Linked DNA regions of Homo sapiens. The protein of the gene in region 1 binds, or shares a complex with, the protein of each later gene. Each region holds a gene or a part of one and is shown on either strand. Other genes may lie near its edges. A codon is read from its position in the direction of its gene.

Region 1 (3,897 bases):
ACATCATCTCTCTGGACCAGCCCTCAACCCTCACTGTCACAAGGCCTCTGCCACAGGCCCCCCGCCACCACTTAGCACTCTCCCTGCTGACCCCCTGGTCCATTCAGCCCCTGGGTGGCCCCCACACAGTCTGTGACAGGGAGGAGGCTGGGAGGGGCACTGCCTCCCACAAGGAGCTCACGTTCTGGTGGGAGGAGGCCAAGAATCAGGACCAAGGAGAACTTCAGTGAAGCAAAAGAAGAAAAATGGAACAGGGGTGAAGGGGCTGGAGAAGCCTCAGGGAGGTGACAGCTGAAACCTGCACCAGGAGGGGCGGGGCCTGTAGTGGGCACTGGGCAGTAGGACCCTGTGGTGAGCCAGGTCTGCTCAGGTAACAGGAAGGTCGTTGGGCCACAGTGTGGTGGGGACTGCCCTGAGGCCGGGTGGCTGCAGCTGGGCCTGGTGTGGGGGTGGTGGCCTTGCCTGGGGGCCCCTGCAGGGCTGGCCTAGCAGGGAAGGTGTCCACACCATCTCAGCTCTGGGCAGGTGGGGTGGACCTGGGGCTTATCCACCGTCTAGAAACCACTTGGAGGCCAGGCAGCCTTGGCTACTGCTCTGTGGCTGGGCCTCCAGGGCCCTCCTGGTCATGCAGAATGGGGCAGAGCCGGAGCCCGTTGGGAGGGAGCCTGGGCTGTGCGCTCGGGGTACTGTGAAGTCCCTGGAGGCCTGGACCCCCATCCTTTCCTGGGTGGGTCAGGGACAGGGTGGGACAGGGACAGAGGGCAAGGGTGAGAGGGTAGAGAGCGGGCAACAGGTAGTAACAGCCGGCCCTTCTCTCCCAGCACAGCGACTCGGACTCCGACCCCGAGTACTCCACGCTGCCGCCATCCATCCCCAGTGCGGTGCCCGTGACCGGCGAGTCCTTCTGTGACTGTGCTGGGCAGAGCGAGGCCTCCTTCTGTAGCAGCCTGCACTCGGCCCACCGGGGCAGGGACTGCCGCTGCGGAGAGGAAGACGAGTGTGAGCGTGGGGCCCAGCCCCTGCTGGGACTGCACTGCGGGCGGGCCTGGGGGTGGGCAGGGCAGAGCCCCATGGAGCTCTCAGGGCTGCCCCAGCCTGGGCCTCTCTTGCAGATTTCGACTGGGTCTGGGATGACTTAAATAAGTCATCAGCCACCCTGCTGAGCTGTGACAACCGTAAGGTCAGCTTCCACATGGAGTACAGCTGCGGCACAGCGGCCATCCGGGGCACCAAGGAGCTGGGGGAGGGCCAGCACTTCTGGGAGATCAAGATGACCTCTCCCGTCTACGGCACCGACATGGTAAGTTGCTTCGGCCCAGGGTGCTTCTGGGGAACCTGGCTCCGGCAGCCCAGCCCCGCGCCCTCTGCCTGGCCCCTGTTCCTAGATGGTGGGCATCGGGACGTCGGATGTGGACCTGGACAAATACCGCCACACGTTCTGCAGCCTGCTGGGCAGGGATGAGGACAGCTGGGGCCTCTCCTACACGGGTGCGTGAGGCCCAGGGTGGGGCGGGGCCGAGCCTGGAGCTCCCGGGCTCACTGCGACCCTGGCTGCCCCCAGGCCTCCTCCACCACAAGGGCGACAAGACCAGCTTCTCATCGCGGTTCGGCCAGGGCTCCATCATTGGCGTGCACCTGGACACCTGGCACGGCACACTCACCTTTTTCAAGAACAGGAAGTGTATAGGTGAGGCCGTCACAGGACTTGAGCTCCTCTCAGCTGTCACCCCGAGGGAGGCAGCCACCCCGCCCCAGCCCAGGGGACACTGAGGTTTTCTGAAAGGGTTCCTCCCAGAAGCCTGAGGCCCCAGGGTCCCAGGGGGTGGGACAGTGAGGCCAGGCTGGAGTGGCAGGGCCAGCGCGTGCACCCTGCCTTGCCTCAGCTGTGCCAGCTGCCCACCCGGGTGACTGTAGCGTGAGGTCTGAGGGGCTGCGCCCAGTAGCTGGCCCCTTCCCTGCCTGGGGTTCAGGCTGGGCCCCTCCCTTCCAGGTGTGGCAGCCACCAAGCTGCAGAACAAGAGATTCTACCCGATGGTGTGCTCCACGGCGGCCCGGAGCAGCATGAAGGTCACCCGCTCCTGTGCCAGCGCCACTTCCCTCCAGTACCTGTGCTGCCACCGCCTGCGCCAGCTGCGGCCAGACTCGGGAGACACGCTGGAGGGTCTGCCGCTGCCGCCGGGCCTCAAGCAGGTGCTACACAACAAGCTGGGCTGGGTCCTGAGCATGAGTTGCAGCCGCCGCAAGGCTCCAGTGTCCGATCCCCAGGCAGCGACCTCCGCCCACCCCAGCAGTCGCGAGCCTCGGCCCTGCCAGAGGAAGCGCTGCCGCCGGACCTGACTGACTTCCCAGTGGAACTGCCTTCTTGGGCTGGGACAGCCCCTTTCCTCTGTCCCTTCTTTCTCTGTCCCTTCCTTCCAGCCACACTCCAGGGCGGAGTTGGATGAGGCCCGTCCGGAGGGAGCCATCTCTTGCTCCCGAGGCTGGGACAGTCCTTTCTGTGGGGGCTCTAGGGCCCCTCTGCTGCTGTGCTGGGTGGGGAAGCGGCTGCCCTGAGCCCCAGGTCTTGTGGGAGGCTGCGAGGACGAGAGCCTGGCTGGAGCCCGCGTTGCTGTTCCCACAGGGCCTCGGTTTTTCCTAACTTGCTCTGCATGCTGTCAGCGGCTGCCCCGCCGTCATAGACTTAAAGGACTGCAATAAATGTAGAGTTGATGTCTAACACCCACATGGCGTGAGCTGAAACGTATCCGTGCAGAGGCCGGGCTTGCGAGCAGCCTGGGCCTTCTCCCAGGCCTCACTGCCCCTCCACATCCTTGGGAGTCCCCTACTGCTTCTGGCTGAGGGTGCCACACCCCAAGCCTCCAGGTGGCAGTGGGGCCCTGGAGCTGCCTTCTGGTCCCTGCCGAGTGTGTGTGTGTGTTGGGGGGGCACAGCCCTGCTGCTGAGGCCTCCCCTGGGGCCTACGTGTTCAGGACTCAGCACAGGAACCGCCAGCCATCTGCCAGCCAGAAGCCCCTCTTCTCCCAGCTACCTAAAACTTCCCCTGCAACCACCCACCCTTCCCCTGAGGTCAGACCTGCTCAGCCAGAGAACCCACCCAGGCTGAGGGTCCACATGTGGCTGGGGGTCCTCCCCCACCGCCCAGGGTGTCTGGTCTGTCCCCAAGGCTGCATGCTGTCCTGGTGGTCCCACGTGTGGTCAGGAGCCCAGGTCCAGCAGGAGATCAGGGTTGGCTGTGGTCAGGAAGAGGCAGATGCGGCGGGAGAGGTCAGGCCCCACCCTGCGGGGACGCCCGCCTTCACTGGGCGGCACAGGAAGGTCGGCCAGGAGGCCCATGCGCTCCCGCTCCGTGCTGCAGGCCTCCAGCGCCTAGGAGCAGGCAAAGGCATGAGAGGGCGCCTGGGGACGGGGCTTCTGCACCTGGAGGGCTTGGAGGAGGCAGGGGCCCACCTGCTGCAGAAGGCGGGGGGAGGGGAAGGCTGTGACAACTGCATCAGCCACGGCTGGGCTGACCCGACTGAACTGCCTGATCTGCCTCCGCCAGGCCGCCTGCAGCCCTGCGCCGTCTCTTGCCACTGGCTCGCCGGCTGCCCAGCGCCCTGCTGTGCAGAAGGAGAAGGCCTGGGATTCCCGGTACTGCCTGGGGACAGAGAGAAGCCTTTTAGAACCTCATGTGAGCAGCTCCCAAAAGGCCGGGGAGGCACCACTACCTTGAGGTGATCCTGCCCCCCTTCAGCCTTGGCATCACGCACTTGAGGGGATACTGGGCGAGAGCCTTGGTAACGGCGCACACGTGCCGACTCAGCTCCTGCCAAGAGGCCACCAGTAGCACGTCCAGGTTTGCCCAGAGCTGCAGGAGTACCAGGGCCTGGGGAGGAGGCAAGCTGATGGGCACGAGCC
Region 2 (3,897 bases), on another chromosome or scaffold:
TCCCACCCCACTGCCATGGTTCCGCCTCCCGGTGTAGCCCAGTGCTCACCAGGTGCTCCCGGTAGAGCACCAGCAGTATCACTCGGGCTCCTGAGTGCCGAGCTGGCCAGTAGCTGCCAGAGCCTCCCGCTTTGGGCTGGGCAGGAACCTGAAAGGTACAGAGGAGTTCTGAACATGAAAGCCAGCCAGTCATCTTTGAATAAGTCCCCAGCAGGCTTTGTGGCCCTGGGTAAGTCACTCAGTTGTCTCTCAGTTTCCTTCTCTGTAAAATGGGCCAGGTGATGGGATGATCCGCTGCAAATCTGGGATAAAACAGCAGGCAGTTTCGGGGCAGTGGGTGGGGGTGTCTGCCCAGCCTGGCCTCACTTCTACCATGCGCTGCAGGACAGGTGTAATTAGACAGGAAAACTCAATAATGGTGACCCCGTAACTAACTGAGCTGGGATCCTTAAGTAGCTTGATCATGGAATTCTCTCATTGGCTGTTACCAATATTTCTATTCACAGGTTAAAATACTAAGTCGAAAAGAGGATAAGTCATTTGCTCAAGGCCAGGCATCACTGGTGAGATTTGGACTCAGGCTTGCCAAATCCCCCAAGCCAGAAAATCATACTCCCGCACTCCCACTTTGCCTTCCACTCCCCTTGCCCCTTCCTCACTGGCATGGAAGAGTCCTGGACTTCCGCAAGTCGCCCCTGCGGGGCTGGACTGTTCTCTCCAGATGGTGAGTCCGGGGCATGGTCACCTGCGGGAGAGAAAAGAGTTAACTCCACACTCCACGAATCCGGCAGCTGCGAGGATCTGGGATGCAACCTACTCAGATGGTTACGTGAGACCGGTGAGGGAGGCTCAGGGAGCGCCAGCCACTAGCCCTAGGCCGAACGGCAACTGGGACAGGAGTGGGGAGCTTAAAAGCCAAGGGCTCCCAGGAGAGTACGGAGGCTCCACCTGGGGGAGGTGGGGGATCACCGACCCCTTTCCGAGGCGCTCACCGCCCGATGTTCGGTGCCGCTGCAGCCGCTCGTCCAGCATCCGGCAGAGCCCGTCTCCGAAGTGCTGTAGGATCTTAGCTTCCTTCCCGCTGCGCAGCGGCAGTGGGTACCGTCGGAGGGAACGCAGCGCCTGGCCGGGCAGGGGTAGGGTACCTGGTCAGGGCAGGCCTGACCTGGCCAGCAGCTTTTCCCATCGGGCCACGCCAGGACCCACCTTCTGAAATACGAAGCGCGTGCGGCGCCTGCTGCGGGTCGCCTCGTCCCGCCACTCGGTCAGCCAGCGAACGAAGAGCGGGTTGGGACAGGCAGGCAGCGGGCGCTTCCGGCCCAGGCGGACCGGGGCCGCCATGAGCCCGAGGGCGGGTCCTCCGGCGCTCCACGCCCGCGGGACTGGGACGCCGCCAGTTCTGGAGTCGGGATTCGAACACCTGGCCCAGGGCGGGGCGGGGGAAGAGGGAGACCGAGGGCAGGACCGTTGAGATCACGGGGCCCCAAACACAGGGGGCACTAACGAGAGGAGAGCCTGCGGCCGCCCTCCCACCCCTGCGCTGCTCTAAGTGGTTGGTCAGGGGCGCTGTCTCTAACGATCTTTTCCCTTGGCTCCACTCCAGCCAGCCTTTGAGACGCGCCCTTTCCCAGCCCCCGGAGCCTGGACCGGCTCCTTCCTGTCACCCCAGATTCGAGAGCGGGGTCTTTGTGTAGGCGAGAGGAAGGCGGACAGCGCCCCCTGTGACGGGGAGGACTGGCTGGGCGGCGCTTAACGGACTAACCTGAGCTTGGCGGCTCTAAGGTCTCTTAAGATTGTCAGCTTCAGCCTCAAGCTTGAAGGAGGCTGGAGATGGAGACTGGTCTTGAAAAGAGTCCAGGAGAGGCGGGGGCTAGGAGACAAACGGGTGCAAACGTATTGGTGGGAGGGACACCCAGAAATGGGTGCCGGGGATGAGGACACAAAGGTAAGGCAGGAGGAGCTGCAGGACCCTTGGAGGAAATGGTGATCCTCATCCCCGGGATACAGGGCAAAGAGTGTGTGGTGGAGAGGAAGTCGGGGACGTGCCGAGAAGGCCCAAAATAGAACTCGGAATGTCGGGGGTCAGAGGCCTAGAGGAAGGAGGACTGTAAGTAAGAGGTGCTTGGGCATCCTGGCAGTTGGGGAGGCCTGAGATGGGCACGCGGTTGGGTTTGGGAGCGGAGGAGCAGGCTGCGGGTTAAGAAGCCCAGACACAGGTAGAGGGGAGAACACTTCGTCATTTTTGTGGCTAATCGGAAGTGGGAGACCCTCAGGGAGGTTGAAGATGGAAACCCTACAAAGGGCTTCAACCTGAGAAGCCTGAAAGACACGTATAGCTGAGTTGGACACAGGCGACCCGCCAGGGTTTGAAGCAGCACCCGGCCTCTAGCTGCTATGCCGGAAGTCGCAACACGCAGGTCTCCAGCCTGCGAGGAAGGGAGAGGTGGGCGCCAGAGCTCCAGTCCCGCCCCTCAGGACTGTGCCTAGCCCACGGCGCAGTAGCCCCAGCCAAGCTAAATTGGACCAATGGGCTCCGGCTCCCGCCTCCCGCCCGCCGCGGCCTTATAAGGAGCCTCAAGCCGGCTGTCGGGCTGGCCCCGCCCCCTCGAGTCTCTTGTCCTAATAAGGACATCTAGGGCATCCCGCGGCTGGGGGCGGGCGAGAGCGCGTCTCCAGGGTAACTGCGAAGCCCCCCTCTCTCTCCCCGTTGCTCTTGGAAACTCTAAGGCTCAGAAAAGGGGGCGCTAGCCTCATATTCATGTAGGGTCGCTCGCGGGAGGCGGGGTCAAGCTGCTGTCTCCACCTGGAGCGCCGGGAGTCCGGGCGGGGGCGGTGCTGTGGAATGTCCCCGACTACAACCCCCGGTATGCTCTGCAAGGTACCCCACTCCCAGGCATCGCTCTCCGTTTACACCCTTAATTCCGTTTATAGGATTAGGGCCCCCAGTTCCCTTTCTGGGTTTGCCTCTGACTTGTTTGCGACCCAGTCTTTTCCTGCAGAGTGTGAGGCTGTGGTCACTGTTCTAGAACAACAAAATCATCCCGGAGTCCCCCGCTCGTTTCTTTTTTTTTTTAAGGCATATACTACCACAGAACTTGTCTCAGTTTTGCGGATGTTAGAATAACCATGTACCTGGCTATCAACTCGAGAGCTGGGTTCAAGTCTGGTTTAATATCTATTTCTTCTCATTGGCACGTAAAGGCATGTAAAGAAGCCTTGAATTGAATGCACAAACCCTCGTCTTTACCCTTTAACGCCTCATGACTTTGCCAAACATCTTTAAACAAGAACAAAGCTCTCAGAGATTTCCTTGTACCTTTCCCCTGTGCCTTTTCCTCCTATTCTTGTTTTACTGACGTTGGACATGGCCTTTTTTCAGGAGACGAGAGTGGCTTTACACATGCAGAGTACTAGTGTTTATCCGACTGACGACGCCTTCATACTTGTGATTTCCTTTGCTTTAGGTCGGGATTCCAGGCTAATCAATAGTTGCTTCGATTCAGAAATGCAAAACCCTAACCTCACTCAAAAATTTCAGGCCAAGGGATCCAGATAATACCAGATGGGTCTTAAGAAAGCCGTTTTGCTGTGGGATAAAGAGCCGCTTAGTCGGGGATCGTTTTCGGGTCATTTTACTGAGCGCCGCCTCGCCGGGCTCAGAGCGGTTCCTGGGAAATTGGACCAATGGGCTCGCGCTGCGCGCTGCGGTGCCGCCCAGGACCTGGGCCTACATTTCCCTACATGCACTGCAGCTCGGAGCCGGCCGGCGGGAAGACTCCGTTACCCAGCGAGCGAGGCGGCGGCGCAGGGCCAGCGGACTCCATTTCCCGTCGGCTCGCGGTGGGAGCGCCGGAAGCCCGCCCCACCCCTCATTGTGCGGCTCCTACTAAACGGAAG

Evidence for each region.
Region 2: the proteins of EME2 (region 1) and MUS81 are in contact, whole or in part, in a crystal structure (PDB 7F6L), measured with the Homo sapiens proteins. Residues at the interface, in NP_001244299.1 of Homo sapiens: Glu140, Arg177, His179, Glu220, Glu221, Val224, Leu225, Gln227, Leu228, Trp229, Asn231, Leu232, Asp233, Leu235, Arg245, His246, Ala249, Val250, Lys252, Ala253, Leu254, Gln256, Tyr257, Lys260, Gln261, Glu264, Gln266 (codon at 3,621), Phe268 (codon at 3,615), Phe270 (codon at 3,609), Cys271 (codon at 3,606); in NP_079404.3 of Homo sapiens: His330, Glu351, Phe354, Lys357, Arg358, Arg363, Val365, Glu381, Leu385, Gln386, Thr389, Asn390, Gln392, Val393, Ile394, Phe398, Lys400, Arg401, Tyr411, Leu414, Leu415, Arg417, Gly418, Leu419, Arg421, Leu422, Pro447, Ile464, Lys467, Ala468.

The regions. Positions count from the first base shown.
Region 1 is NC_000016.10:1,775,537-1,779,433, reverse strand, and holds part of EME2 (structure-specific endonuclease subunit EME2), read right to left. Parts: intron 3,866-3,897; coding exon 3,750-3,865; intron 3,638-3,749; coding exon 3,448-3,637; intron 3,367-3,447; coding exon 3,196-3,366; 3' UTR 2,338-3,195; coding exon of another isoform or gene 1,991-2,337; 3' UTR 1,688-1,990; coding exon of another isoform or gene 1,562-1,687; 3' UTR 1,489-1,561; coding exon of another isoform or gene 1,386-1,488; 3' UTR 1,301-1,385; coding exon of another isoform or gene 822-1,300; 3' UTR 1-821. Other genes in the region: SPSB3 (SPRY domain-containing SOCS box protein 3), read left to right, coding at 822-999, 1,113-1,300, 1,386-1,488, 1,562-1,687, 1,991-2,337. UniProt on the Homo sapiens protein: Non-catalytic subunit of the structure-specific, heterodimeric DNA endonuclease MUS81-EME2 which is involved in the maintenance of genome stability. In the complex, EME2 is required for DNA cleavage, participating in DNA recognition and bending.
Region 2 is NC_000011.10:65,858,198-65,862,094, reverse strand, and holds the start of MUS81 (structure-specific endonuclease subunit MUS81), read right to left. Parts: upstream 1,663-3,897; 5' UTR 1,342-1,662; coding exon 1,207-1,341; intron 1,123-1,206; coding exon 993-1,122; intron 746-992; coding exon 660-745; intron 149-659; coding exon 50-148; intron 1-49. UniProt on the Homo sapiens protein: Catalytic subunit of two functionally distinct, structure-specific, heterodimeric DNA endonucleases MUS81-EME1 and MUS81-EME2 that are involved in the maintenance of genome stability.